2 linked regions of the Homo sapiens genome follow. The protein of the gene in region 1 interacts with the protein of each later gene in a pairwise test. Each region holds a gene or a part of one and is shown on either strand. Other genes may lie near its edges.

Region 1 (15,870 bases):
AACTGGACATTAGATGAGGTTTCAAAGTCCATTTGATCAACTACATCAATTACATGAAGACAAAGCAAGTCTAGATATTTTTTCACATGTGCTTCAGTATAAAGAGACCATCTAGTAACCTAATCTGTTGGATTACAGTACTCAAGAAAGCACTTACTTAAAATAAATGTATCCTAGTTTATTTATAAAAATGGCCACAGAATTAAATAACTTAATAAACACAATGATTTACAAGTATTATATTGGTTATTTTAAAAGAATAGAAGAGGATATTACAACTCACAAGTACAATTTTTTACACATTAATTTATGTGTTGTAGAGAATACCTAAGGCTCAGCATGAGGAATGGTTGGAAACATATGCAATGTTAAAAACTATTCTGTTCAGTATTTTACTGTGAGTAATTATGGTAATTGTAATATAAATGTACTGCTGATCTAGGAACTAAACTGAATTGAAATTCTGCTAAGGACTGAAAAAAAATTTAAACCCAAAGGAAATAAAACTTGACATCTTCATTCATAAATAAGTGCCCAAAACATTTTAAATAAACAAAATGTGTCAACTTATAAAAAGCTATATAACGAGGCAAGTTTGTGATCAAATAAATGTATTTTGTAAGCAAATTATAACTGATATGTATTGTAATGTCACAAATCTCTTTTGATTTTTAGTTTCTGATTCTTTTTTATGCATAAGTTTTGGGGACCTTACAGATATAATTGAGATCTTCATAAATGACATCCACAAATGGGGGCTGGAGATACATTACGATAATCTCAGACAGATAGATCATAGCATCCTGCAGATTAGATTGCTTTTGTTTTAGAAATGGAGTCTTGCTCTGTCACCCAAGCTAAAGTCCTAAAGCACATACTTAAATTTAGCTCACTGCAGTCTTGTACTCTTAGGCTCAAGTAATCCTCCCTCCTCAGCCTCCAGAGTAGCTGGGACTACAGGTGTGCACCACAATGACCAGCCAATTTCCTTGATATTTTTTTAAGAGATGGGATCTTACTACGTGGTACAGGCCTCAGCCTCCCAAGTAGCTGGGATTATAGGTAAGAGCCACCACACCCAGCCCAAATTAGATTGTTTCTAAAGAGATATTCTGACCACGCCTTTAAATATCTAATCATAAGTCACCTACTCAAAAACCGTCCTTGACTTCTGTATTAGTTTCCTATTGCTGCTGTAACACAAACTTAGTGGCTTAAAATGGCACAAATTTATTATCTTACAATTCTGGAGGTCAGAATCTAGAATGTGTCTCACTGGGCTAAAACCAAGATGCCAGGCTGCGTTCTCTTCTGAATGCCTAGCGGAAAATTCATTTTCTTGCCTTTTACCACTTCCTTGGAGAAGGAGTCTACATGCTTTTTTTGGCGCATGGCCCTCTTCTGTATTCAAAGCTAGCAATGGCTGGTTGGATCTTTCTCAAACTCTATCACTCTGACCTGCCTCTGTCTTCTACTTTTAAGTACCTTGTGATTCCATTGGGATTGTCTGGATAACTCAGGATAATCTCCTTATTTTAACATCAACTGTTTAACAACCTTAACTCCCTCTTTAACTCTAATTTCTCTTTGCTATGTGACATAAGACACTTACAGTTTTTGAGGGTTAGGATGTGGACATCGTGGAAGGGAGACATTATTCCTCCTACCATGGCTTCCCAGTATCTAGCAAACCCATCCTGGCTGCCTGGGTCTTCTACACTGTGGGCTCGAATTTACTCTCCAGCCTTACCCCCAAGACCTCATTCTATGTGCCCTGTGTTCCACACACACCAGTCCATCCAGATCCCCCAACACACCCCACACTCACACAGCTCATAGCTTTGTTTCTTGCATTTTATCTTCTTTGATGTTCTCTTCATTCCACCCTGCCTCCCTTTACTCACCACCAAGATGAAACTCTGTTCATCCTCGGACTTATAGCAAATGCTTCTTTCTCCATGAAGCTTTCCCCCTAACTTTTTCCCTCTGGATGTTCATATCATAATGTTTGTACCTCTCTGTAGAACTTGACATTCTGCCTTGTTTGACAGTTATTTGTGTCCTTATCTCCTCTGCTAGGTAATAATTTCCTTGAGGACAGAGGCTCATGGATTCATCCTCATATTTAATGTCTGTTAGGCATATGCAAAACTGAACCCTTGATTTTCATCCACACTCCTCCAGACCTACTATTCCTTTAGTTTTTCCCATCACTAAAAGCACCTCCGTTCACCCAGTTGCACTTGACACAAACTTTGGAGCCATTCTCAACTCCTCTTTCCCTCATTCCTCATATCCAATTCATTAGTAAATTTTACCAGTGCTACCCACTGATCTAAGCCACCACCATCTTTTGCCTGTCCTACAGGACTTCCTGTTTCAAGTCTTGCCTCTGCACCTCTCACTGCACAAGTCAGAATGTGTGCATGTGCATGTAAACATACATATAAATTCTGTTTTCAACTCAGCAGCGAGAGGGATCATTTGCATTTTTTAAAAGTCTAAGTCTGATGATATTTCAGCCCCGCTTAATGTCACAGATTCCCATCATGCTTGGAATAAAATCCAAAGTCCGTATCGTGTTCTTTAGGACCCTAACCTCATTTCCCACTGTCCACCTTGCTCACTGTGGTCCAACCTCACTTTCGCCCTCATAGTTCCTCACACAGACACTTGTCACAGGGCCTTTGCATGTGCTATTTCCTCAGCTGGTGGACACTCTTGTCTCCAGATAGCCACATGATTCATTACTTACATCCCTTCTGTCTCTGCTCATCCCCTCATGTTCTTTGGGTCTCTGTGTAAATGTCACTTCATCAGAGCGGCCTTCCCTGACCACCCTGTCCAAAAGAAGAGCCCTTCACGTATTTTGTCACTGTCTATACTCTTATCCTGCCCAAATTTTCTTTATCCACCTATCATTACATGACATGGCATTATACATTTATTTCTTGTCTGTTACTTCCCAGCAGAATATAAGTTCCATGAGTGCAGGAACTTTGTTTTGACCTATATTCTAGTCTCAGCACCTGAATGCACACATAGCTCAGGATACGTGTTTCATGAATATTTGTTAAGTGAACATATTCATCTTTGTATGCCCTCTAGTTTCTTGCCCAGTTCTTTGATCATTATAATAGATGCTGAAAAAGGATTTCCTGATTGAATTTTATGTATATACCAAACATTATATAACATCATCTCCAAAGGAAAAACAACCAAGAAATGCCACTTTTTCAAGATAAATAAAGGTTACAAAGAAGTCATCACAATTCTGCTTAGCCTTTTATCATGTAGTTCTGATATGATGGATGTCTCTAGAGCGCAAAATGTATCAAACTGAATGTTCCAGGAAGGAGTTCAGAAACAATTCCAGGCAGGCCACACTGCCTCTCCTACAGTGCACTGGGACAGGGTACATGAGTGGATGTGGAGAGGGCCTAGGTGACTGTGAGCCACCACGCCCTGTAGTTAGGTACATCCAACTTCAGCAAACGTAATGCCTGAAGCCTTATTCAGTCCCACCTAAGTTTTTCTTCTCCTTAATGCATTTCTCTCACTTCTAGAGTACTGGTTTCTTAGAAGGAGCCTTTTATCCTTTGTTTCTAGGTTTTTATTATTAGAGGAAGGGGAAAAAAAAACTCAAAATAAAAATAAACATATAGACCGGGCGTGTTGGCTCACGCCTGTAATCCCAGCACTTTGGGAGGCTGAGGCAGGGGGATCACTTGAGGCCAGGAGTTGGAGACCCGCCTGGCCAACATAGTGAAACCCTGTCTCTACTAAATATACAAAAATTAGCTGGGTGTGGTAGCACATGCCCGTAAGCCCAGCTACTTGGGTGGCTGATGCAGGGGAATTGCTTGAACCCAGGAGGCGGAAGTTGCAGTGAGCTGAGATCATGCCACTGCACTCCAGCCTGGACAACAGAATGAGACTCAAAAATAAATAAATAAATAAATGAAATAACCATATTATCTCTAATCACTCACTCTGTCTTGTCTCACATACAAGAGGGCAGTTTTAAAAACTCACCTTTTTTTTTTTTTGGCCATCCAATGTATATAATTATGCAAATGCAAATGTCTGGAATCAAGTTCATTTCATTTAAACTTATTGGTTTTAAACTATTATTTACATAATAATTTTAAATAATACTCTCCCTTTCCTTCAGAATTTCCTTTTATACCGACTCCCTAAATTCAGTAGCACTGGCCGGGCGCGGTGGCTCATGCCTGTAATCCCAGCCCTTTGGGAGGCCAAGGCAGGGGTGGATCACGAGGTCAGGAGATCGAGACCATCCTGGCTAACATGGTGAAACCTCATCTCACTAAAAATAGAAAAAATTAGCCAGGCGTGGTGGTGGGCGCCTGTAGTCCCAGCTACTCGGGAGGCTGAGGCAGGAGAATGGCATGAACCAGGGAGGCGGAGCTTGCAGTGAGCCGAGATCATGCCAATGCACTCCAGCCTGGGCGACAGAGCGAGACTCTGTCTCAAAAAAAAAACAAAAAAACAAAAAAAAACAAAAAATTCAGTAGCACCAACAATATCTTTTAATCTGAAAACACAAATATTAATCACAATGACTCCTTTTTGGTTCTCAGGTTGTTTTTCTTGCACAGCAGATGAGAACATTTTCTAAGACAGTGGTTTTTGAATCTTGTCTTCACATTAGAATCATCACAGAACTTTTAAAAAACATCAATGCCCAGGCCCCACCCAAGACCAAATCAGAATCTTGGAGAGTTGGACCCAGCCATAAGAACTTCTTTTTAAAGTTCCCCTGGTGATTCTAAGGTACAGCCATAGGTGAGAACCAAAGCTCCTAGCATATACAACTGTGAGTCACCAAGAGATAGTGCAGTGACTGGAATAGTAGCAAGAGGAAGTTGACCCCGAATTTAGATTTTGCTATGGTTAATCCACAGAGATAATCTCCCTGTGGACAATTTGTTGCCTTGAATACTCTATTACAAGACTGGATATAGTGATTGCTTTAGACAATAAGGATATGATTCAAAATACAAATAAATTCAGTAGGAACTCAAGGTATTTTAAAGAAATTATTAGTCAAAGATCAAATTTACTCACAGTATCTTCTTCAGCAGCTTATGGCTTAAGAAATTCTGTATTTGCAATGTATTCTTTCCCTCTCCTGCCTCTTACTGTAATTAATGCAGGAAACTCAAGGGAGAGGAAAAAACTCCTTATTCTATTTTTTCTAAGAAGTGATTTCCTAAGTGGTTTCTTGTGTTGGTGGGTCATGAAGAAAAGCCTGGAGGCGGCTGGGATTCAAGACACTGTTGGGAATCTAGACATTCTACAAAGAAACAGAGGGGAAGCATAGGCCTTCAATAAAGAGGTAAAGTAAGGCAAAGAAAAGATCTAGGCAGCCAAGAGCCAACAGGAATGGACAATGGGTATTGCCTAATTGCAGGGACACTGTGGAAACACTCTGCTTATGTACATGACTCTGGCATAATATTTTTATTACATTGAATTTTTCCATCACACTGCCTATAAGAATTTCCAAATTGAGAATTTATTGGTCAAAAATAGAAAGGTGATGCTAAAGAACAAACTTACAGTCTATAAATGATACAACATAATTATAATCTGGATAAAGAGATATAAATTGGTTTGGCTGAGAAAACCTTGACTAAAATGAATAGGATGTTGTCCATGACTTCTGTAACATAAATATATTCTTCTCCAGTTCTGTCAGTTCCTGAATACTTTACTTTATAAAATGTATTTTGTTCAGGTACTTTTTCAAAACAACTGTTGCCAAGATCTGAACTGGCACTGGAAAAAAAATGATTATTTTCAGGGGAGAGAGAGATAAAGAAAAGAGAGAGGAGAAATTTTAGTATTACATAAAGCATTGGGATTGCTTCTAGGTAATTTAAAAATCAACGTCCCAATGATTTCAATTTACTTTTTCTGCCAGATACTTCAAACTGCCTGAAAATTGTGAAGCAGTCTTTTTGTAATAAATTATAATTTGTCCTTGTCTTGATTAGATATTAGCCATTTATTAATGTGTGTGTGCATATATATGTATATATAGATATGAAATTTATTAGTGCTTGAACCACTATCTTAAAATAATTAGCAACGTTTCACCAACTATAACAACTTCTAAATGATGAACTGCCATATAATTTCTAAATCATTACTACTGGTTGGCACTCATCTTTGACATTATTGATTTAATTCTAAAAAAAAAAATGTTTCTAAAACCCTGAGATTTCTTTTTAAATTCCTGAGCATTAAGAGGATCAAGTTACAACATTTGTCTTTGAGACGTTATCACCTCTTCAAGATCTTTAACATTATACTCCAAATTCTATATTCTTAGTCCTATATTTACTGCTTATGTATTATTGATATTTTTTAAGGTAAATCAATATTCATTTGTCGACAGGAGCATTTTTTTTTTGAGAGGAGTCATTCATATTTTTAAAAAGAAATATTTTCTAAATGTCTCAAATTCAAGAATTTACTGTTCAGGAGGTAAGACCACAAGTTTTATTGCAGAGTGACGGTAAGCTGTTTTAAATACTATTATAATATTAATGTAGAATTTTTTTCTTTTGGATTAATATAAATATATCTTGTTAGAGTTAACAGAAAGTTTTCCTGTGAACACAAGATGCATTCCCTTTTGGACTGTTTTTCTGCTTGATCCCTCAAAAAAAGGAAAAATGTCAGTAACTTTTAAAAAGATACATACCTTTGATAGTTAAGCAACAAGGAGAGCAGAAAAGATCAAGGGAAGTAGAAACGGAACCAGAACCAGGTGCACTACAAAGCTCAATTAGTTCACAGGCTAAGGACACTGCTTTTTATAAGTTATTTTTCTCCATTGGGAACAGTTTTCTGAGACTTCCTCTCTCTGCTCTCCATCCCGGGAGTCCTAACCAGGTTTTATCTTTTTTTTTTTTCTTTTTCTTTTTCTTCTTGCTTGCTTTCGAGACCAATAGAAGTTGTCAGAGAAGTCATATTAGGTACATTTCACTGAAGGTTTTCTATTTTCAGCAAGTTTTACTGTTCTCCAGACGACTCCTGACTGTCCCTAAACACAAAGGGTAACTAGGCTCCCTGTAGACTCTTTTGAGAATCTATTTCATGAAAACTAGGAGCCCTCTGTACTTCCCAAAATGGACCCGCAATATTCCACATTTGATTCCGGGTCGTTTGTCAAGCCACAAAAGCTTATCTTTGAACCCCAAGTTGAAAATGCCTATGTAGAGCGAAAAGGTGAGGAACTCTCTCACAACTTTCGAGAGTCCCCTCGACCTTTCAAGGAAGGTCATTCCATCTGAGTTCTAGATGAGACCAGCTGAAGCTCGGACCTTGACCGTGAGCTGGAGTAGGTGGATCCCCGCTAACCACTGGCTTTAAATGGAGGAAAAGTTAACTTTCTTGGCTCCTTGCACTTCTCCAAACCCAGTCCGGTAGGCGCAGGACCCGGACTGGGTCGAGGCCTCAAAATCTGAGACCAGGCAAGACAGGTTTTAAAGTAAGCCTCTGGGCACCACTGGTCGCCGCGCGTAAACCCACCTGAAAAGACCGGAGCCCTGGGGCTCCCTGATGTAGTCATTCCTGGTTTGAGCACAGCCTGCGCCACCTGGTCTCCTCCTAGCAATGCGAGCACACGCCGAACCCTCCCCGCGCGGAGTCTAACACCGACGCTGCCTCCAAACCTCCCTCGCGGGGAGCCCCTGGGTGCGCGGGGCGTTCTTACCTTGGGGTTGGTCAGGAGCTGGTGCTCGTCGCTGTGCAGCAGCGCCCTAGAGTTGGACTCAGAGTTGTTCACGTAGACCTGGACGCAGGGGTACTGCGAGGTGCCCCTGCAGTCGGCGCCACAGGTGAAGGTGCACTCGAACACCTCGCCGATCTGCTGCACCGACAGCACCGTGCAATTGGCCTCCGTGGCTTGCAGATCCTGCAGCGCGGGACTCAGCCAGCAGAAGCCGAAGATGAAGAGCGACACGACGCCGGAGATGATGAGAAACAAGCCGAGCCGGATGCTCTTGTCCTCGGCTTCCGTGTACTCGTAAGCCACCCGGAGCTTCGCCATCGCCCCCCACTCTCGGCGGCTGGCGTGCTCCCCCCGCCCCCTCCCGCCCCCGGCGCCGAGCCCGACTGCCTCGGGCGGGAGGAGCCGCCGCCGCCACCGCCGCCGCCGCGCGACAGCAGGGGAGTGGGCGGCGAGGGGGAGCGCGCGAGAACAAAGGGGCCGAGGCCAGCGACGCCCCCGGCGGCGGCGGCGGCAGCGCCCCCCAGCCCCCCAGCCGCCGCCTGGGCCCCGCGGTGCAGCAGCCGCTTCAGAGCCTCCTGCACCCTCGGGCGCGGGGAGCGCACGGACCGCTCCAGCTTCCAGCGCCCCCTGCCAGCCTCCGCCCCCGCACTCTCCCCGCCTCCCCCACCCCGCCTCCTCTCGTCGGGTGTCTCTCTGTCTCCATCGCCCGCTGGCCGCTACTCCGCTGACTCGCCCGGCAGCTGCCCCAAGGCTAGGAGTGTCTGAGCTGGGGCGAGCCCGGGGGCTCCCCCGTGCAGGAGGAGGCTCCGCCCCGCCCCGTCCGCAGCAGACCCGGGCCCTTCCGCCCCGCCCCGCTCCGCCCCGCCCCGCCCGGGGGCGTCTCCTTTGGGCGAGGGGCTGACGGGCACAAGCGACAGCGGCGACTTGCAATCGGAATCTTCGCTCACTCCCCTTAGAGGGACGTCCGAGATGAAAGATTAAGATCAATTTAGCTTAACCGGAGGGAAGTTAAAATAATAATAATAATAAGAGGGGAGGGTGGAGTTCAAGTGGAGCGGCGGGAATCTTGAACTCCAAACGAGTACTGGTCACCTGCAGGGAGAGCGGCCAGGCTCCGGGCGCACCCCGGGAAGCGGGCACGGGTGGCGGTGTGGGAGGACACGAGCCGCCCAGGCCGGGCGGATCGAGGTGAAAGCCCCAGGCTAGCGGTGTGCGCTGGGAGGTCCCCGGGGACGACTGAATCGCAGGTTCCCATGCCACGGGCGGGCTGGCGCGCGGTGGTGCCGGAGGCGTGACCCAGCCGCGCCCACGCCGCCAGCGGCTGCGCCCAAGGGAGCGCAGTAACCGTCCAGTCCCAGGACTTGGGCCTCCTAACCGTCTTGGCGCAGACCCGCGCCCCCTGACCCTGCTGAGGCCGGGAGGGCTGCAGGATTGGAGTTAAACAAGCTGAGTCAGGTGGAGTTTGCTGTGGAGGCAATGTGCGTGGGGGCAGGAGGCTGGACGAAGGAAACTTGCTGCTTAGGTCGTCGGTGACCCTTGTGGCAACTTAGGTCTCTGGCAGCCGAGTTGACCCCAACTTGATTTGCCCCCATGGCTGGGGCTGACTGAGACCAAAGGAAAAAGGTGGAGAGCTTTGCAGCCTGGAAAGAAATACCACTTTACCCATCAGAAAAGTACTCTTGCTTTGGGGCTCGCAAGAACAGAATCATTTCTGTCGTTTCCCTCCTTAGGAGTCTTGCCACCCCTGACCCGCCCCAGGATTTGTAGATGAGGTTTCCAGGAGCGCTGCTTAAAGCGACAGCGCCGGGCAGACCCACTTTGGGACAGGTACTGTTTCTAGACCTGTGTTCTGCTCTTAATTCTTGCCGTTGCTCCCTCCTCCCCCAATTACGCTAACAATGCTTCAGCCTCTATTGTTTTCGCGACCTTTTTAAAGTTAGAATGACCTTTTCCCAAACTACACTTTTATCATAAAATCAAACTTGAGAACTATTTATATGTACATTTCGAAGAATAAAATCAGAATATTAACTTCCTTGCAAACTACATAAACTTTTTTTGTTTGCTTGTAAGTCTCAAATGAATAAACTCTTAATTATGTTCCTGATGAATACGGAAACATGGAATCATGGAATTCTTGACTTCTCTTTCCTGGACTTCAAATGTTACTTAACTGGTATTGAGTACCTTTCGACTGCAGTTCTGATAACGTTATTTTGAAGCACTACATTATGACAGGTAACAAGTATTTCCCAGCAATGGGCAAATTAATTACAGGAAGATCCTAAGTGTCTTTTTCTCAATAAATTAAGAAGATGTAGAGTTTGAAAAACGTCCAAATTAGGAAGATGCTTTGTTCTCTAATACCTTTCAGGTTTTGAGATTTTCTTTTTTTAATTTAAATGTAAGAATTGTATTCTTTTCCTGTTAGCATAAAGACAATTGTGATTACATTGCTTAAAAGTGAGTTTAATAATTGAAATAGCATAACCGAAAATCACAAATCTTCAATCTGAATCTTTTTCCTATTGCAGGAAAAATAAAAAACATAGGAAATAATCTTTTTTTTCTATTGTTATAATCTTCTTTTCCAAGAAAGGAAAAGCTATGTCTAAGATCTGAAGCAATGATGAACAAATAACAAGATACAATTATTCTAGCTCAGTATGTTGAGGAACTGAAATGAGGCAGAATTAATTCCTATTAATGCACAGCAGTTGGGGGACTACCAATAATTTAATGAATATGGTTCGTTTTTCAATGATTCCAGAGCTCAAAGTCTTCTGTGAATGAAACCTCTGCCTCAAAACTGAAGTACGGTGGTCTAAGTCTAGGGAACAAAATCAGAAAATTCTATCTTATTTTAACTGAAATTCTTGAAGTTTTAAAATTCATTTTCTTTCAGTTCTGCATTTAGTCAATTTCTTTCTTGGCAATTATTCTTAAAGTATTTAAAGAAACTTGTGTCTTCTGTTCTCTAGACATTTTTTTCTCCTGTTTCCTGTTTTTAATTTAGCTTTTCTCTGAACACTTTTATCTTCACATCTTTATTGAAAGTCAAACGTATTAAGACTTCACAAATTAAATCAATTTCTATTTTATTCTTAATGAAACACTGGAAGTGTTTATTAGTTTTACTTACTTGAAGCGGAGCTGCTTTATCACATTCCCAAGGAAGATTGGATATGTCAGCCCCTCAGTTTCAGAATACAGGTCACCACTTACTAAGTCAGAATGGTAGTAAGAACTCCAGGAAAGCTCAGAAATGCTAAGATCTGAGGTCACTTAAAATCTCTGTTCCCTGTGAAAGGTGGAAGTAGCACAGAAAAAGCAGCTAGTCCTTTCTTTGAATAGTGTTCCACCAATTAAGATTAAAAATGTAATATTAAGAACCAGACTGACTTATTTGATGTACATCGTCTGCAGTAGTTTTTCCAGTAGGATCATGGCCAGGTCTTGATAAAGTTCAATTTAAAAGAAAAATAAAGCCTGTCTAAACAAGGGCATCAAAGCCATGTTACTTATAATTTGTTCTCATGATCAATATTCAAAAAGTCCTGTGGCTGATGCTAAAGTTGCAGTATACAATATCATATGTATATATACTTTTTAATAAAAGATTCTAAAAATAATTTTAAGGCAGGCTTTTGTATCCTAGGAATAGAAGGGAATTTACAGCAGGTGGGAAAATTTTTTCAAAAATTGGCACATTATGAAGTTTTTTGATAACTGCCACTAAACACTTGAAAAGCGAAAATACATAGGAAAATAATGTATAATCACTTTTTCTATTAAAATTTACGTTCTAGAGTTTAGACCTTTTTTACTAGATATTACACATGATGAAAGTATGAGTGATCCAACAAAGAAAACCATATAAAACCATTTTATATTTTCTTCTTGATTCAGCAGCTATAATTATAGATTTTGTTAATGTCATAGGAAATTGAGTTCCAGCTTGCTGATACCAAATTAATTTCCTTGCCATGCTCCATTATGAGTGTTAAATATTTGTTATTAGCCTCAGAATTTTAAATTCAAAATACATTTCCTATGTGGTCACTATTTTTTCTGATTGTTTTTTCCTGGCCATAAACTTCACCTATTAAAATGAGCATATAATTATTACTAAGAACACTACTTACTATCTCTAATTACAGTAAATTAGAACAGGAAGGGATTTTAACCATTGCCTAGTTCAACATTAACCAAGAAGCTCCCAGACTTTGCATTTTGCTTGTAATTGTAGTTATTTAAAATATTTTTTAAAAGCTCAAATTTATGTTTGTGTATAGCCTTTATGTTTGCAACTGAGGAAAGCAAAACACAGACAATCAATTCACATTTTTTCCATTAAAATTTACATTCTGGATAGATTAGCAAATTTTTAATACCATACTGGTAGTGCTCTAGAGTTCCTAAAATCTCACCAACTGTTGAGTCTTTCATGTTAACTGCAGTGAATCTGTATGGGAGAGATATACACAGGTATGTAGTAAAAGGGAAATCAGCTTTGGAACTTGAAACATAGAGGCCAAGAGGTTTTGGTCCCAGCTTTAGTAGTAAATAATTTGACACAAGGTAAATAATCCTCTTAGTCTATTTTCTGTTGCTATAACTGAATACCTGAGACTGGGTAATTTATAAAGAAACTTATTTCTTACAATTCTAGATGCTGGGAAGTCCAAGAGCATGACAGTAGTATCTGGTCAGGTCCTTGTGTACCCTAACATGGCAGAAGGCAGTTCCATAGCAAGAAAGCAAGAATGCCTATTAACTCAGGCCACTGTACATATAAAGCCACCAGTCCCATCAGGCCCCACACCCTGATGACCTTATTTAATCCTAATTATCTCCCAAAGGCCCCATCTCGAAATGCCATCAAAAATATGAATTTGGGGAATATGTTCTAACACATTAAATTTGGGGGACACTTTTAAACCATAGCAATATTAGTTTCCTCCTTGTCGTACAAAAGGGTTGGTCTAGAAGAGTTTTAGTATTCTAGTATCTAATTCCCATTTTTGTTTTGCCATGCACTTTAGAAAATTGGGTATTGCTATATAACAGTATCTAGTGAAGTTAAAAGGTCTTGAACAGAATCCAAAAACATGGAGAGCCTGTCCTAGCATGATGGCTAACAGGAAGAGTGTTTGTCTTTAGAGAAATGGACCTACGTCGATGCAACACCTAATATAAGCTAGGTTATTTACAAATGCCTTAATTTAACCTTCCCATGAGAAGAAGAGGGAAAAACATTCAGAGATTAGGTAATTTTTGCAAGACTGCACACATATTGTGACAGGGCCAGGGGATTTTATATTTGCATTTTACATAGTATCTTATATTTAAGAAATACTAACTACTCGAAGATAATAAATTACCTAAAACAATTTTTCTACTATACTATGCCACTTCTAAGAAATTTGTTAACAAAAATGAAGTGTAGATAATACAAAAAGCATTTATGAATGGATTTAAAATGTGTTTCTATACTTATATTTAAGTACAGTTAGGCTTAATCAAAATCTCTACTGTGAAACGATTATGAAGGGGACGGTGAGTAGAGGCTGAAGGAACTAATAATTTAATCTGGTCCCCCTGCTTAATTTTACTCTGAATCACATTTGTGTTGAAAATAGCCTCTTCAGATGCTTAGCAAATAGTAGTAGTACTGTTTTATGTGGAACAGAGAGATTAAGTTAGGTTTCTAGTGGCTTGCTAAAAATTCAAGCTAAAATTCAAGGTAGAAGTAAATACAGGGAATAACTAGATGTGCAATAGTTATAAGGCAGAAGGAAATCCTATCCTCTGCAGACTGAAAAGCATCATCGAATATTTCTAATAATACTTTTTTTTTTTTTTGCCTTTTCTTGGACACTTCCAGTGATGGAAAGATATAACTCCTAATGATTTCTGGAACTTTTGAAAAATTATAAACTGGTACTTTATTACTGTAGATTGAAATTTGCCTTGCCATAACAGCTATGTAATGGTCCTTATTCTGTCCTCTGGCGTTATGTAGGATAAAGATATTTTTAAGAATAAAGCCTTACATGAGGCAGAATGGCGTGAACCTGGGAGGTGGAGCTTGCAGTGAGCCGAGATCGCACCACTGCACTCCAGCCTGGGCGACAGAGCAAGACTCCGTCTCAAGAAAAAAAAAAAAAAAAAAAAGGATTAAGCCTTACAAATGACTCTACCTCAGAGGTGAGAAGACAGCCATTATGTCTCTCCTAGGCCTTTTGTTATGCACAACTTCCAGTTTCTTCAGTATTCTCTTTTGATATGATGTAGGAAACTAAGGTTTTACCCTTAGTCCAAAATGCTAAGAATAATAAGTCAAAGTTGGAAAGGATGCCCCACTTTAACATTCGAAAGTCTGAGCTTTTCTTTTCCATGATATTCCAATTTACAAACACTTCTAGGATAATGGATTTTGTTGTTCAATGACAGTGTCATTGCAAATGTAGGGAATTTGGATTCCTAATAGTGATATACAAGTCAACTAATATTCAAATTTTAGACCTATATTAAGTCATTTAGAGTGAACTGAAAAAAATTATACAAAACTTTAGATAAAAAAAGGGAAATCTGGAAATAACTTTTTGAGCAGAGGAGTAACATGACTTGCATTTTTTAAAACTGAGATATAACTCATGCAATAGACAGCATGTTATATTTGAAGAATATTAACCACTTGAAGACAATAAGTTAAAACATTCAAAATAAAAAAACAAACATATCTTTCTCTTAAGAGGGGAAATATTTAACTCAAAGACAGCCCATTTTTCATGCACTGTTACATATGGTAATTAAAACTCCATCTTAAAATAAATGTTCAGTATGTAACAGATTTAAAGGTAGCTTTGAAACATTCTGGCTGCCCCAAATCTTTATTTTTATACATAAGAAGATGAAACTATTTATATCATTCCCTCATGTAATGTTTTCTCATTCAGATGTATAATTTTGAAGAATAAATGTTTAATTTAAAATAGTTTTCTCATTATAAATTAGTATCAAGAGGCCTGATTCTAAAAAGAATCAAGCAGACTCAGCGATTTGTGGACATCATACCACCCTTGAAATTTGAAGTATTCTTCCAAAATGTTTGAAGAATTCATGTATTATCATCAAAATTATCTTCATTATGCACTAGGAAATAGTTTGGCCTGGAAGAAAAAAGCATGTATTGTAAGTTTTAAAAGTAAATTATATGGTCAAAATGTCACTTAGGCCAAAAATAAATGCAAATCACAAAAACATTACATTTCAGGAAACACATACAAATTAGAGACCAGCTCTGATTCATAGTAAAGATTTGTTTTCCTCAGCTAGTGCCTTCAATTATTGTCTAAAAGAACTAACACTTTTGGCATAAAGCCAGTTTTATTTAATCTTCTCTAAGAAAGATGTCAAAACATTTTGGTGGTATGGTATGGCCTTTCAGGCCTAGAAATGAAAACTAAGATAAATTTCAAAAAGAATGAAAAATTGGCTTTGCTATGTAGAAGATAGTTTAAGTATTTTAGCACATGTCAACTGGTTATCATATGCTATTTGACTATGCAATAATTTGGATTTTCAAGATAGAGAATTATGACAATTAGGACCTTGTGAATTTTGACACTTTCAAGAAGTCATTTAAATAACTGAGAGAAAACTGTACAATAAACATGGAAATGACTAGCTTTTTAAAAAGCCCTATAAATCTTGAGTTCTTATGATAAAGAGACATGTCACTAAAATCTTGTCACAGTATTTACACAACTGTTTAATTGGATTAAAAAACCTTCAATTAATGCATACATAACTGATAATGTAATTCCCATTACATTATCAGTTTTTATACATACAAACTGAAGAGGAAATCTTAAGATCAGCAGAAATATTCCCAGGAAATAACTGAGATAAAAGCACTTTTGCTGTTTTATATTTATATATGGATTCAGCTTTCCTCCTGTTCTGCTAACAAATACTATTGTAGTAACATGGTTTCTGCCCTAGAACATTGGATGTTATAGGAAAAAGTAAATGAATGCCCCTGATACACAGGGATTATAATATTTAGTGGGATTTTAAGAAACAAGATTTTATTC
Region 2 (15,767 bases), on another chromosome or scaffold:
TAAAGTAATGGTGACCCGAGAGGTGCCTTGATGAGAAGGTTTGGGGTCCCGGTTACTGATGGTTATCATTCTTACGAGATGCTGGTCACCTACGAAGGGAGAAAGGCACGAGGAGCGCCTGACCAAAGTGGTTTTGCCCTGCTTCCCGCAAGAGGTGGCACCCACGGCTGGAACGCAGGAGTCAGACCCACAGTCCCCAGCTCTGGACGCCCGCAGCGGGGCCTCGAAGAGGTTCAGGGCGGTGCCCGCGGCGCTCGGGCCGGGTCTCCCGGGGCGTGGGGCGGGGGGCGGGGTTGGGCGGCGGCCGGGGCTCCTCCCTCTTCTGCCCCGGGCTCCCCTGCTCTTAACCCGCGCGCGGGGGCGCCCAGGCCACTGGGCTCCGCGGAGCCAGCGAGAGGTCTGCGCGGAGTCTGAGCGGCGCTCGTCCCGTCCCAAGGCCGACGCCAGCACGCCGTCATGGCCCCCGCAGCGGCGACGGGGGGCAGCACCCTGCCCAGTGGCTTCTCGGTCTTCACCACCTTGCCCGACTTGCTCTTCATCTTTGAGTTTGTGAGTGGCTCCTGGCCGGGGAAGGGACGGGGTGGGCTGAGCCGTGCGCTCTCTCGGGCGCCCAGCACAGCTGTCGGACGGGATCCGCTAGCTGCGCAGGTTCTGGGAGCATCGGGGCAGCAGGCGCAGGGCGGGGACTAAGCCAGGGAAGTCCCCTCCCACCTCCGGTCCTTTGTGCCCTTCTAGACCAACAGAATGAGGGGAACAGTCTACAGGACTATGGAGGAAAAACTGGGTTCCCAACTGGGGTCAGATGTAGGCAGCGGGGCAGGGGGGGACGGCTCTTGGTTCGCTGGTCCCAAAGCTGCGCGCGGGGCCCACTTGACGCGCGCAGCGCCACCGAAGCTCCCGCCGCGCTTTGCGCGGTTGGGTAGAAGTGCGCAGCTTTTACAAGGGAGAAGGTTTCGTTAAAAAAGAAAAAAAAATCAGCAAGAGAAACATTAGTATTACCAACCGAGATTTGGAGATGAGAGGGAGCTGAATCCGGTTTATTTTCTTCTGGCCTTTTAAAGTTTCTGGCGAGGGAACGTATTTGCGACCAATTCGATCTGGAAATGAGGCCATCGTTTGCTTGGCCGCAGTCCTTCTGCCCCGTGTGCGGGGTGGGGGTGGAGGAGATGGGGGGTGGGGGGTGGGGGGTGGCGGCGAGAGCGATCCGCGCGCCTCGACTGACCTTGGGCAGGCCCGGGGCCTCTGCACCTGCGGTCGGTCCCGCCTTGCACGCACGGTCTCTGCCTGAGGCTGCAGGAAAGCGCTTCCTACTGAGAACTCCTGATAAGCGCTCACGGTGTCGCGAAGCCGAAGTGACCTCCCTCAGCCTCAACTCCCCGGGGGCCGCTGGCCTTCACCTGGGAGGGGTGTGCCCTGTATGTCCTGTGGGTGCGGTCCGTCACCGCCTGAGGGACACCTTTTCCGGCACCCCACCCTCAGAAGTGTCAGCGTGGAGAGTTGGGCGGGAAAGAAAATGTCGGAGCCTGGCTGTTTAAAAATTGGACCCCAGGTTGTTATTGCCTGATTGGAGGGGGAGGGTGTGAATACCAAAGGGAGCAGGTCAGTTCATCCAAAGAGGGCTTGCGGGCAGAGGCTAAGAGGGCTGCGGCGGCCTGGGAGCAGGGCTACCATTGAACTTAGGGTGAAAGTCCAGTCGAACCCAAACCTGGGTGGAACCGGTGACTTGAAATCCTAGGGATAGGCGGAATCAAAGCAGTTACATTTAGAAGAAACCCTGGACGCCAATGAACGCAGCCCCACCGTTTACAGAGAGCCAGCCCCCCGCTGGCCTCCTTTTAGAAGTTCAGCATACAAGAAGGAGTGCCCCTGAGAGTAGGAACAGTCCAGTTAGACGGGGCGATCTGATCTGCGGGAAAGGTGACCGGAGACTCCCACCCAACCCGCCAATGCTGCAGAAATTACAGGGGCGTGGGAAACCTTGGAACCATCTACTACTGGCAGCTTGCTCTTCCAGCGTGGCTTTGTGGCCTGCCGGTAGCGGGGCTTCCAGAAGAAACAACTCCCCCTCGCCCAGAACGCTTCTCTCAGCTGACTTAGAAAGTCACTTCTCCACCTCACCCCTGTTCCCCACCTCCCTTCCTCACTTCCCAGGAGACCCGCAATGCATAGTCATCTCCAGGCATCTTCCACATGCTCTAGATTAGGGGTGGGCTCGCAGGTGCCTGGGAGAGAAGAGGAGAAAGCTGACCCCAAGCCTCTCAGTTCTCCTCTGCATGGACTGTAAATACGAAGCTGTATATATTTGATGTGTGGAAGGAGTGGAGAATTAAAGGGCCTGAGAAGGCGCTGGCCACCCCGGGAGAGTTTTTGTTTTTGTTTTTGTTTTTGCTTTTGAGACGGAGTCTCGCTCTGTCGCCCAGGCTGGAGTGCAGTGGCGCGATCTTGGCTCACTGCAGGCTCCGCCTCCCGGGTTCACGCCATTCTCCTGCCTCAGCCTCCCAGCTACTCGAGAGGTTTTTTTAATTATGGAATATTACAACTCGACAACAAAAAGACAACCCAATTAGAAAATGGACAATGGACTTGAACAGAGGTTTCTACAAAGAAGATACACAAATGGCCAATATGCACATAAAAAGATGCTTAACATCATCAGGCATTAGGAAAACTAAATTGAAACCACAATGAGGCCAGTTGCGGTGACTCACGCCTGTAATCCCAGCACTTTGGGAGGCTGAGGTGGGTGGATCACCTGAGGTCAGGAGTTCGAGACCAGACTGACCAACATGGTGAAACCCCATCTCTACTAAAAATACAAAAAAAAAAAAAAAAAAAAAAAACCCGGCTTGGGTGGCTCATGCCTGTAGTCCCAGCTACTCAGCAGGCTAAGGCATGAGCATCGCTTGAACCTGGGAGGCAGAGGTTGCAGTAAGCCGAGATCATGCCGCTGCACTCCAGCCTGGGCAACAGAGTGAGACTCGGTCTCAAAAAAATAAATTAATAAGTAAATAAATTAAATAAATAGAAAGAAAGAAATCACAATGAGATACCACTTCACACCCATTAGGATGGCTACTATCCAAAAAACGGAAAACATCAAGTATTGGATGTGGAGAAATTGGAACCCTTGGTATGCCACTGGCGGGAATGTGAAATGGTTCAGCCACTGTGGAAAACAGTTTGGTGTTCCCTCAAAAAATTACCCTCTGACCCAGCAATTCCACTCCTGGGTATATAACCAAAGGATTCCAAGCAGGGACTTTAGTATTGGCACATGCATGTTCATAGCAGCAGTCTTCACAATAACACACAGCCCAGTGGCCATCAGCAATGAACTGAATAACAAAGTGCGACATATCCAAACAATGGATACTACCTGACCATAGAAAGGAATGAAGTACTGATACGTGCTACAAAGTTGATAAACCTTGAAAACTCTATGCTAAGCAAAAGACACAAGGCACAAAATGTCATATAGTGTATGATTCCGTTTATATAAAATACTGGAATAGATAAATCCATAGAGACAGAACACAAACCCTGGTGGTTTGCCAGGGACCAAGGGGAGCAATTGTTTAATCGCTATGTGGTTTCTTTTTGGGGGTAATGAAAATGCTTTGGAATTAGATTGAGTTGGTGGGTGCACAACACCATGAATGTACTAAATGCCACTGAACTGTCAACTTAAAATGATTGGTTTGATGATATGTGAATTTCACCTCAAGTTTAAAAAACAAAAAATAGAAATATTTCAAATGCCACAGAAGAACATATACAATACTTTAACAGACACCTACATAATTATTGCCCAACTTTGTCAAATCTTAATATTTTGCCTTGTTTGCTGTTATGTATTAAGGAAATGAAGCTTTCAGATGGCATCTAAGCCTCCTAGACATCCTTCTGTTATCTTATTCTCTCTCTCCCTCCGTCCTCAGGGCCACCTGTAGGCTGAATGTGGTGTTCACTTCCAAGCACAGGTTAGACTTTTACTGCACACATATGAACTACACATGGCATTGTTTTACATGTTTTCGCACTTTATGAAAATGCCAGCATACAGTACGTATCCTTCTGCAACATGCTTTCCAGGCAACATTATGTTCTGAGATTTATACATGTTGACTTTGTTTACCCAGTCTTCTGTTAATAGACACTTTGGATAGTTCCAATTTGCTGCCTTTAGCTATTGCAGACAGCATTGCTAAGAACATTCTCATATTTGCCTCTGTAGTTACCTGTTGGAAATGTCTCCCAGAGACACTTGGAGGATGTGACTTGTTGGGTCACAGGGGATATGCACATTGTCATTTTCCCAGGTGTTATCACATTGCCGTCCAAAAGAGTAATTCCAATTTACACACCCCAGGAGCAGATTTACTGGGAAGCTGATGTTTAATTAAGTTCAAGACCCCTACTTACTCAAGCCCCTTCCAAGACTCTGCCTAATTTTGTATTCTCTTATAAAGATGGTCCTCCTGATTGTTTAAGCTTCAGGCTAAACCTGGACCTTCCCCGGCCCCTACCAGCAGCACATGAAAGTCGCCATTGTTCCTCATCACTTGGTAGCGTCAGACTTTATAATTTTCTGCTAGTCCAATGGGTGTGAAATGCTTGATTATTTTTTAAATCTGTAGTCCACTGAGTTGTTGATGACTCATAGTTCAGATTCCCATGCCTGACCTCCCAACAGCCTGGGAGGCGCAGATGTCCAAGCTGATCCGGGTGGAGCGCCACTTCCATGGTGAGGGGACTGCCCACTGGAGCAAGTGAGGGTGGCAGCTCAGGGTGGGGCATAGCAACCTCTCCTTGGCCCAGCACCCCTATCCCAGACCTCCTGACCTCTGAAAGCTGCAGAGTCCTCACAGGAAGAGGAAGGCAGGCCCAACTAGGAAGTGAGACTGCCTTTCCAAATACCTCCAGAGCCACAGAGGCTGTGCCCCTATTGCAGGTGGTGTGGTCATCAGTGCAGCCCCATATAGGCCAAGGGTGAAATAGCCAATGCTCTCCCCTCCTCCAACAAAACCCAGGGCTTTGCTTCTCGTCTGCTCCCCTGCAAAAGTCCCACCCAGTGAGGAACTTTTCCTTTTGGAGCCACTCTCTGTCTCTGTCTCCGTCTCCATTCTAAGCCAGGGACTTCCTTGACACTGGGCCACCATTCAGGGAATGAAAGGTTCACAGGGAAGGCTTTCTGTCTCAGCTGGGGCCCCCAGATGCGAGGTCTCCCACAGAGTGCCAGGAGAGACCCCCTACCCATTCAGGACTTGTGAAGGAAGTGCCTGAAGAGGGTTGTGAGATCATCTACTCAGCCCCCTCCTCCCCAGGCCACAAAGGAGGCAGGGTTGTGAGTGAGGGTGTGAGGAATGCCGCCCAGCCCTCCAGGGGCATGCCCTTCCTCCTCTGTGCCTCAGAAACACGAACAGAAGTGCAGTCACATCACGGGTTGGGGTTGGGGTGGGGAGACACCCGCAATCAGTTTGCAGTTTTGACAGTTACAGTGAACTGGACAGAGTAATGACTAAAATGACACCTTTTCTGTGACCCAAAGTGACTGGACTGTTATTAAGAGTGACCAGAGAGGTCTGGGGACTTCTGCTAGATTTCTACCTGGCTGGGGAATAGCCAGCCCGACAGAGCCGGGACTGGGCCATGGGCCAGCGAGGCAGTTTCGCATTAGGTGGTCCAAGCTGTGGCTGCACTGAGAAGGTGGCATGGGAACTCCTAGGAGACCAGAGACGTAGAATGACAGAAACCTCACTTTCAGAGCTGGCAGGGAACTGAGGCTCAGACAGGGAGCAACTTGCCTGGGTCACCGGGTCTCCAGGGTCCAGTGAGCACTTCTGGCAGTGAGCAGATCATGCCCAGGCTTCTCCTTTCACCTAATCAGCCACACGAGATTTTGCTTGCACTAGAAGGCACACTGGGATCCTGAGTAGGCAGCCCTGCCCACCTGGCAGCTCTGGGCAAGGCTTGGTCCCTTCTCTCCCCCAACAGGAATGAAGGGACAGCTCAGGACCACTGGGAAGCTCACACCTCCTCTGGGTCTCCTTGTCAAAAACACACCCTGCAGGTTCTGAGTCACGAGGTCCAGGGCAGGTTGAAGAACCCGCATTGCACTGCACACCCTCCACTGACTGGCTGAGACTTGGAGCGGACATCTCGAGGCCAGGCCACCCTCTTGATATTTTTATGGGGGATAGAATAGTGGGAACAGTTCTCAGGGAGAGGCTGGGGCAAGCAGCCAGGTGCTCTGAGGTTCTCACAAGTCAGACCAGGGACCTCCTCTGTTCTGGAGAAAGTTCCCTGCTGTGCTAGCTAGGAGCCTCTCCTACAGGCACCAGGGAGTGGGGCAGGCCCCGCTTGGCCAGAATGGGATGGTGGCTGAGTTGGCCTTCTCTGACTGTGTCCACTGGCTCCTGGCTCTGTCCCTTCTCTGTAGCTATTTAGAGAGGGCTACTGCCTGATCTTCCGTGTTTTCTCCTCTCTTCCTCTCTAAAGGGAGGAGAAGTGTTCTAGACAGAGATTTCACAGGGGTTTGGTGGAGAAGTGACTTTTCTGGTTTTTCAAGACCAGAGGCTGGCTTTGGTGAGGACTCAGTAACTTTGAGCTGCTCCCTGGAAACTGCTAAGTGTGATGATGGGGCTCATCTCCACAGGATTGTCAGACATGTGTCATCACACCTGAGCTATATTTTAAAAGATTGCCTTTTAGCTTTTCATAAGTCACTCCCCCACCTCACAGGGATGGGGCAATGCCAGAACTGGTGCAAAGGCACCCTTTCTGTCCCAGTGCTTTCAGAAGTGAGTAGGAAGCCCCACGATGCTGCTGCCAGCAGCGCTCACACTCAGGTCGGCCAGGGACAAGGGCTGAATTTTGCACCTATACTCGCCACACCAGCAGGCGAGGGGCAGAGCATATTGTGCTGCCAGCACAGACTAGCTCTGCACAGCCTTAGCAGTGGCTTGGCTTTGTCCTGGGCCCAGACACATTCTCCAGAGAAGGGGCTGGGAGTAGGGACTGGACCACCTGGGACCTGCCTTGACACAGGACAGAGCCAGCCAGACTTGAACTAGAAGGGGCTGGGGGCTGACTTAAGCCACTCCAGGGCTTCCTCCTGGCCCCTCCAGTGTCAGTGCCGGACATGGTGCTTTGGACCAGCAGGCCTCAGGGACAGGTGCTGATAGGACACCCCAGAGGGTGTACCCTCCTGGTGTTGATGGGTGTGAGGACAGTGGGGGACTGTGCCCCTTGTCCTTGAAGCAGGAACGTTCTGGGGTGTGTGGCCAGCTCCTTCTCACAGCTTTCAGATTGTTCCCAAGGGCATGGAGCATGGAGCAGGTCCCTCGTGGTCTCTCATCAATTTGGAAGGCTCCAAATTGCCTTTGACACCCTGGTGAAAGGTTTGATACCCAGTGAGCTCCTAGCTGGGCATGAGCAGTGTAGCCATTTCCCTTCTTGGGGTCATGAACGTGCCACACTCTGCTTCTCTGCAGCACTTCTCCCCAGGCTCTCTGCCGCTGCTACCTCATTCACAGCTAGTGTTCTATGCCAGGATTGGGTGAATCATTTTAATGTACCCGGGCCCTGGGTCCTGCAAAACATATGTAGGAAATCAAAGGAAAGCCTGTCACCAGCCACAGCACCTCCGCAGCGGGAAGAGAAGGTGCAGGGTCGCACAGCCAGCCTCACTGACCTGCAGTTCCTGGCCACAGCCTCCAGTCCCTGTGAGAATGCAGTGGGCTGGGAGGGGAGGGGCTGGAAGGGCAGGGGGAGGAGACAGAAAGTGAAGGTCCCAGAACCAACTTGGAGGGAGGCCCACGGGGGGCCCGGGAGGTGGGCACTCCAGGAATAGGGCCACGGGGAAGGACAGAAGATGACGTTCCCTGACCTGTCAGTGGAGTGGGGCGGGTGGGGTCTGCATGGCAGCCCCTCCCTCTTCTTCAGACTGAACTACAGGCCTGCATCTGCCGAAGAGGGAGCGGGATCCTTTGGCATTTCATCTTGTGCTGTATGTGTCTTAAACACAAACCTTGCTATTGTTTTCCTCTGAAGAAACAGAGGATATTGAGACTCATTGTTTCAGTGGCGGGCCAGGGAGGGAGAAGCCGGCTGGGAGTGGCCTAAAGACTAAGTGGTTATTCGCCACTTAGTTAACATGGAGGAGGCTCCATGTTAACGCGCCTGTAATCCTGGCACTCTGGGAGGTCAAGGTGAGAGGATCACTTGAGGTCAGGAGTTTGAGATCAGCCTGGGCAACATAGCAAGACCCCATTTCTACAAAAAATGTAAACAATTAGCCAACTATGATGGCTTGCACCCATAGTCCCAGCTACTCAGGAGGCTGGGATGGGAGGATTGCTTGAGCCTGGAGGTCAAGGCTGTAGTGAGCTGTGATCGCATCACTGCCCTCCAGTGTGGGTGACAGAGTGAGAACCTGTCATCAAAACAAAAATCTCATGGCCATTTCCAAAGCTGACCCTAGACACAAGAGGTAACTGTCACACCCATGGGGGCCTGGATCTGGGCCTCAGCCAGCTCATCAAAGGAGCACCCGGCAGCTGTGGGAACGTGGGCAGGTAACTGTGCCTCAGTTTCTGCATCAGTAAAATTTGGACATAGCAGCACCTGCCTCACATAGCTACTGCCCCATAGCTATCAAGTGCTGTTATTATTAGTTGACTAATAATTTAAGCATCTGCTCTGAAACCAACTGGCCGACCTGTGCCGATGGCAGGGTCCGCAAGGCCCGCCCCCATCACCTTTGCCATAGGTGCCCTCTGTTCCATTCTCAGGCAGGTGCTGCATGAGGATTGGGATTGGGCCAGGCTGTGGAGGGCACACTTGACTTTTCCCTGGAGTCACCGAGTCCTGCACAGACACCACCTTCCTGGGGCCTTCCCAGTGGCTCTCCTCTCACCAAGAAGGAACAACTGAGGGCAGAGGTCAGTGTGTCCTCAGCTAAGAGCTTGATGGAGCAGCCAAGGGGTGGAGGACAGTGTGGCAGCCCCAGCCTGCCTTCTGCCCAGGGAGCAGGCTGCTTTCTAAGCCTCTCTGCATCACCCTGCCAGCCTGGTGCCAAGATGGGCAGGCAGAGCTTTGTGGATTCTGAGTGTGACACATAGCTACATCTGCCCGCAGGCGTAGGAATGAATTATCAGCAGGCTCAGATTAAAGCTTTCAAAAGCGATTTGTCATCAGTGTCAGTGTGTCGGCTGTATGCAAGGGCATCAGTTCAGGGAGGGGGCAGCCTCTGGCAAAAACCTGTGCCCTCACCTCCCCCAGCCTCCATCCTGGCCCCCAGCTGCTTGGCAGGAGGGCATAGTTGGATTGAGGGGCCTGGCAGGAAAGGAACCGCCGAGCTTATGGGTCTCAGGACTATTTCTAAAACCAGCCACAGACCTCCTTCATCTCCATCTGTGGTCAGGTTGGGGGCAGCAGTGGGAATGCTTCTTTGTTGGAGGTGACCCTTTAGGCCCGAGCTAACCCATCCCCTCCACCGGGAAGCCCACCCTTCTAGCACCCTTTCCTGGCACTCAGAGCACATCCTGCAGACCTTTGCTTATTGTCTGTCTCGTGCCTACACCCTAAGTCTGCCCACATCCCTGGCACAGATCAAGAACTCTGAAACATTTGTTCTCAGCAAGCATCGGTAGGGAAGGGGCTCGGGTCTCCTCTCTCACCTACCTAACACTGATGAATCATAAGATGAGTCCTTGACCTCAAAGGCGGACAGAGGGTGAAACTGACAAAGGCTGCCAGTCCCCAAGAGACTCTGGGAGTTCCATCTCCCTTGGACCCTCCCAGACCCTGGGCGGGCAGCCTTCTGTCGCCTCTGGCAGGTGTACACCTGTTTTGTTGGTTTGTTCACATTACTAACCTACCTGGTGACTCCCATAAATCCCTTTTGTTTTTCTTGCATTTAAGCCACTCCTGTCTGGTCCAGCATTTCCACGGATTTTGCCTTTTACAGGTGGCTTACCCAGTATTTTCACAGAACCTCTTGGTTTCTGTTTATCCTGCTGGGTAAGGCCAGCAGGTGTAGATGTGGTAGGCAGAATTTTCCATTCAAATGAAGACATGCCTATCAGAAAGCCCCTAGATTTGTGGATCTGAGAGGAGTTTTTGTGCATTCAGGAACTAGTGACCATCCTCTAGCTCATGAGGGAGGTGGGTGTTAAGTCAGCAGTCACTTTGTCCTGCTGGCAGCGTGTGCTATGGGAGAGGCTTCCCTGGGGCTCAAGGGGGGTGAGATTGCAAGCCTGAACAGGGGGCTCTTCCCAGTCCAACTTGCCTTGTTAATATAAACTATGGCCCTCCACTCAGCTCTTAGATTTTTTTTTTTTTTTTTTTTGAGACAGAGTCTTGCTCTGTCGCCCAGGCTGGAGTGCAGTGGCATGATCTCGGCTCACTGCAACCTCTGCCTCCTGGGCTCACGCCATTCTCCTGCCTCAGCCTCCTGAGTAGCTGGGACTACAGGCGCCCACCACCACACCCGGCTAATTTTTTGTATTTTTAGTAGAGACGGGGTTTCACCGTGTTAGCCAGGATAGTCTCAATCTCCTGACCTCGTGATCCGCTCACCTCAGCCTCCCCAAGTGCTGGGATTACAGGCGTGAGCCACCGTGCCCAGCAACAGCTCTTCGATCTTTTAATCCCAAATCTCTATCCCCTTCTTCACAAACTGATCCAAACCCGCTGAGTCCTGCTCTTGCCTTCAGATTAGATAAGGAACACTGTCTAAGGCTAGCTGGGGGTGATGATGGCATGAGGGGTCCCTCTGGGAGGAAGAAGCCTGCTAATGAAGAGGCCAGGAGGGGAGAGTGACTGGTGTAGGTAAACCAAGTCAGGTCCCAGCCCCGCTCCCAGGGTTCTCTTTGGTAGCAGTCCCAGGGGTCAGACTCCCAATAATCTGCCTTTTCAGTTGATGCAGGGAGAGGGTCACCACCCAGAGAATCTCGGACCCCTCCCCCGATCTCTCCTCATGGGCTCAGGTGGGGATCTTGTGCCAACTACCGGGCTCTGTACCTGTCCTGTGTGACGTTTGGTATCTGGTCACCATTGCTCAGACACTGACACTTTCACCAGGCCTGAATCCACCCTTGGTGGACCCAGAACTGCTCCAGTGGGGACTGTGGCAAGACTGCATGAGAGAGGAGAGGAAGGGAGAGATGGGCTACGTTCATTAAAGTGTGTCTTTGAATGAGATCCATTTCCCTGGGTGTGCCTGCCTTAGTGTTGACCATGCCACTGTCAGCATCTGTTAAATGCGTGAGTGAATGAATGAATGAATGACCAAGTGAGTGAGTCAGTGAGTGAGTAAGAGAGTGAGTGACTGAGTGACTAACTGAGTGACTGAGTGAGTGAGTGACTGAGTGAGTGACCAAGTGAGTGAGTGAGTGGCTGAGTGAGTGACCGAGTGAGTGACTGAGTGAGTGAGTGACTGAGTGAGTGACTGAGTGACTGAGTGTGTGAGTGAGTGACTTAGTGACTGAGTGAGTGACTGAATGGGTGAGTGAGTGAGTGAGTGACTGAGTGACTGAGTGAGTAACTGAGTGGGTGAGTGAGTGACTGAGTGAGTGACTGAGTGACTGAGTAGGTGAGTGACTGAGTGAGTGACTGAGTGACTGAGTGACCGAGTGAGTGAGTGACTGAGTGAGTGAATGAGTGACTGAGTTACTGAGTGAGTGAATGAGTGACTGAGTGGGTGAGTGAGTGACTGAGTGGGTGAGTGACTGAGTGGGTGAGTGAATGAGTGAGTGAGTGGGTGAGTGAGTGACTGAGTGGGTGAGTGAGTGAGTGAGTGACTGAGTGAGTAACTGAGTGGGTGAGTGAGTGACTGAGTGAGTGACTGAGTGACTGAGTAGGTGAGTGACTGAGTGACTGAGTGACCAAGTGAGTGAGTGACTGAGTGAGTGAATGAGTGACTGAGTGGGTGAGTGAGTGACTGACTGGGTGAATGACTGATGGGTGAGTGAATGAGTGAGTGAGTGGCTGAGTGAGTGACTGAGTGGGTGAGTGAGTGACTGAGTGAGTGAGTGACTGAGTGATTGACTGAGTGAGTGAGTGACTGAGTGAGTGACTGAGTGGGTGAGTGAGTGACTGAGTGACTGAGTGAGTGACTGAGTGACTAACTGAGTGACTGAGTGACTGAGTGAGTGACTGAGTGACTGAGTGAGTGAGTGAGTGAGCAAGCGAGTGAGTGACTGAGTGAGTGAGTGAGTGACTGAGTGAGTGAGTGACTGAGTGACTGAGTGAGTGAGTGGGTGAGTAACAGAGTGAGTGAGTGACTAAGTAAGTGAGTGAGTGAGCAAGCGAGTGAGTGAGTGACTGACTGAGTGACTGAGTGAGTGAGTGAGTGGGTGAGTGAGTGACTGAGTGAGTGACTGAGTCAGTGAGTGACTGAGTGGGTGAGTGAGTGACTGAGTGAGTGACTGAGTGAGTGACTGAGTGACTGTGTGAGTGACTAAGTGAGTGAGTGAGTGACTCAGTGAGTGAGTGACTGAGTGACTGAGTGTGTGAGTGACTGACTGAGTGAGTGAGAGACTGAGTGACCGAGTGGGTGAGTGAGTGACTTGGTGAGTGAGTGACTGAGTGAGTGAGTGAGTAACTGAGTGAGTGAGTGACTGAGTGAGTGAGTGAGTGACTGAGTGAGTGACTGAGTGGATGAGTGAGTGACTGAGTGACTGTGTGAGTGACTGAGTGAGTGAGTGAGTGACTCAGTGAGTGAGTGACTGAGTGATTGAGTGTGTGAGTGACTGACTGAGTGAGTGAGAGACTGAGTGACCGAGTGGGTGAGTGACTTGATGAGTGAGTGACTGAGTGGATGAGTGAGTGACTGAGTGACTGTGTGAGTTACTGAGTGAGTGAGTGAGTGACTCAGTGAGTGAGTGACTGAGTGACTGAGTGTGTGAGTGACTGACTGAGTGAGTGAGAGACTGAGTGACCGAGTGGGTGAGTGAGTGACTTGGTGAGTGAGTGACTGAGTGAGTGAGTGACTGAGTGAGTGAGTAACTGAGTGAGTGAGTGGCTAAGTGAGTGAGTGACTAAGTGAGTGAGTGAGTGAGCAAGTGAGTGAGTGACTGAATGAGTGACTGAGTGACTGAGTGAGTGACTGAGTGAGTGACTGAGTGGGTGAGTGAGTGACTGAGTGAGTGAGTGAGTGACTGAGTGAGTGAGTGGGTGAGTGAGTGACTGAGTGAGTGACTGAGTGACTGAGTGAGTGAGTGAGTGACTGAGTGACTGAGTGAGTGACTGAGTGACTGAGTGGGTGAGTGACTGAGTGAGTGAGTGAGTGACTGAGTGACTGAGTGAGTGAGTGACTGTGTGACTGAGTGAGTGACTGACTGAGTGAGTGACTGAGTGACTGAGTGGGTGAGTGACTGACTGAGTAAGAGACTGAGTGAGTAAGTGACTGACTGACTGAGTGAGTGACTGAGTGAGTGAGCAAGTGAGTGAGTGACTGAGTGAGTGACCGAGTGACTGAGTGAGTGAGTGAGCAAGTGAGTGAATGACCGAGTGACTGAGTGAGTGACTGAGTGGGTGAGTGAGTGACTGAGTGGGTGAGTGAGTGACTAAGTGAGTGACTGAGTAGGTGAGTGAGTGACCGAGTGACTGAGTGAGCAAGTGAGTGAGTGACTGAGTGAGTGACCGAGTGACTGAGTGAGTGACTGAGTGGGTGAGTCAGTGACTGAGTGAGTGAGTGACTGAGTGACTGAGTGGGTGAGTGAGTGAGTGAGTGACTGATTGAGTGACTGAGTGAGTGAGTGAGTAAGTGTCTGAGTGACTGAGTGAGTGAGTGAGTGAGTGAGTGACTGAGTGACTGAATGGGTGAGTGAGTGACTTGGTGAGTGAGTGAGTGACTGAGTGAGTGACTGAGTGAGTGAGTGAGTGAGTGACTGAGTGACTGAGTGAGTAAGTGTCTGAGTGACTGAGTGGGTGAGTGACTGAGTGAGTGACTGAGTGACTGAGTGGGTGAGTGAGTGAGTGAGTGACTGAGTGAGTGAGTGAGTGAGTGACTGACTGACTGACTGAGTAACTGAGTGAGTGAGTGAGTGAGTGAGTGACTGAGTGAATGGGTGAGTGAGTGAGTGACTGAGTGACTGAGTGAGTGAGTGAGTGAGTGAGTGGGTGAGTGAGTGAGTAAGTGACTGAGTGACTGAGTGGGTGAGTGACTGAGTGAGTGACTGAGTGACTGAGTGGGTGAGTGAGTGACTTGGTAAGTGAGTGACTGAGTGAGTCAGTGACTGAGTGGGTGGGTGAGTGACTGAGTGAGTGAGTGACAGTGGGTGAGTGAGTGACTGAGTGAGTGACTGAGTGAGGACTGAGTGAGTGAGGACTGAGTGAGTGACTGAGTGAGTGACTGAGTGACTGAGTGAGGACTGAGTGAGTGACTGAGTGAGTGAGTGGGTGAGTGAGCGAGTGAGTGACTGAGTGAGTGAGGGAAGCTTCCCTCTGGCTTGCTGGGACTGAGTTCCTTCGTACCAGGAGGTAGGTAGGGCTAACACAAATAAAGAAGCCAAACGGTGTTACTCCTTGCCTCTCAGAACTGGAACAGAGTCCCCTATCCTCCCTCTCAGATGCATTTTCTTAGGGGAAGAGCCGCAGGACTTTGCGGAAGCCTTCAGCATTTAGGGGTCTTGGGTCTTCCCCTGACCTCCTGCTCTGTGCATATTCATTCTCCTACCACCTGGTGCTCGGTGCCCTCTTAACTTCATCCGGGCATCAAAGCCTGTTGTGCCATTTACTTGCTCTACAGTAGCTCATCCTTAACCCAGCTCTACCTACCTACACACACACACACACACACGTGCATTCACATGCACACACATGCATGCACGTGCACACACATATACACAGGCATACACAGGCACATGCACACATACATATACACATGCATATGCGGCACCATACACATACATACACATGCACAGACATACACACATACATACATGAATACACACCTGCACGCAAACACATACACATGCATACAGAGAAGTACACACATGTGCATACATACACATACTTATAGGCACATGCATGCACATATACACAAGCATACATGTACACACACACACACATACACATACATACGCACAGAAAAATGCTTCCTACCCTCTATCTCACTCTTAGAATGATTAGCTTTAAATCAATCAACCCATAGAGCTGGGCAAAGCCTGCTGAGCCTCTCCTGAACCACACAGTTGTTTTTCTGGTCAGATGACCTACACAAAATGTCCTCCTGGCATTGAAATAACCCTTGGCTGCTAAGACGACTCAGTGAGTGAATAGATTGCCAGAAACATGAGTGGGGGGTGCTCCTCCTGGTGGCCTTGGGAAAGCACAGAAGGGCTGGGAGCTTCCCGCAGTCCTCCCAGCAGACGGGGATGAGTCCACATGCCTCCCTCGTCTGGCGGGGACATCTCTTCTTTTCCTTTCTGGGGAGATGATTTTTGCCACTTGACCTAAGTGGCAGGGGAGCTCAACAATGGTGCACAGCCTCTGTTCTGTGGCTGGTTTCCTTTACACCTCAAGAATTCAAGGCACAAACTGTTGTTCACATATGCCTTTAAAGGCACACACCACGTGCTCGGTGCTGTTGGGAATTCTGATGCTGGGCTCTGGGGACCACACCACCAGGTGTGTAGATGGAAAGCCTTGCCTGGGAAGACCTCTTTGGTTCATGTCTTGATGTGTCCTTGGAAGAATTTCCGTTTGTGGAGGCCCTAACAGAGTGAAATGGAGCCCCAGAAAAATATCCAGAGAATTTG

Evidence for each region.
Region 2: the proteins of KCNMB4 (region 1) and MAL interact in binary tests that used the Homo sapiens proteins (3 or more experiments, as listed by UniProt).

Annotation. Positions count from the first base shown.
Region 1 is NC_000012.12:70,358,951-70,374,820, reverse strand, and holds the start of KCNMB4 (calcium-activated potassium channel subunit beta-4), read right to left. Parts: upstream 8,532-15,870; 5' UTR 8,087-8,531; coding exon 7,751-8,086; intron 1-7,750. UniProt on the Homo sapiens protein: Regulatory subunit of the calcium activated potassium KCNMA1 (maxiK) channel. Modulates the calcium sensitivity and gating kinetics of KCNMA1, thereby contributing to KCNMA1 channel diversity.
Region 2 is NC_000002.12:95,025,337-95,041,103, forward strand, and holds the start of MAL (myelin and lymphocyte protein), read left to right. Parts: upstream 1-371; 5' UTR 372-456; coding exon 457-549; intron 550-1,003; exon of another isoform or gene 1,004-1,097; intron 1,098-1,222; exon of another isoform or gene 1,223-1,693; intron 1,694-15,767. UniProt on the Homo sapiens protein: May be involved in vesicular trafficking from the Golgi apparatus to the cell membrane. Plays a role in the maintenance of the myelin sheath, and in axon-glia and glia-glia interactions.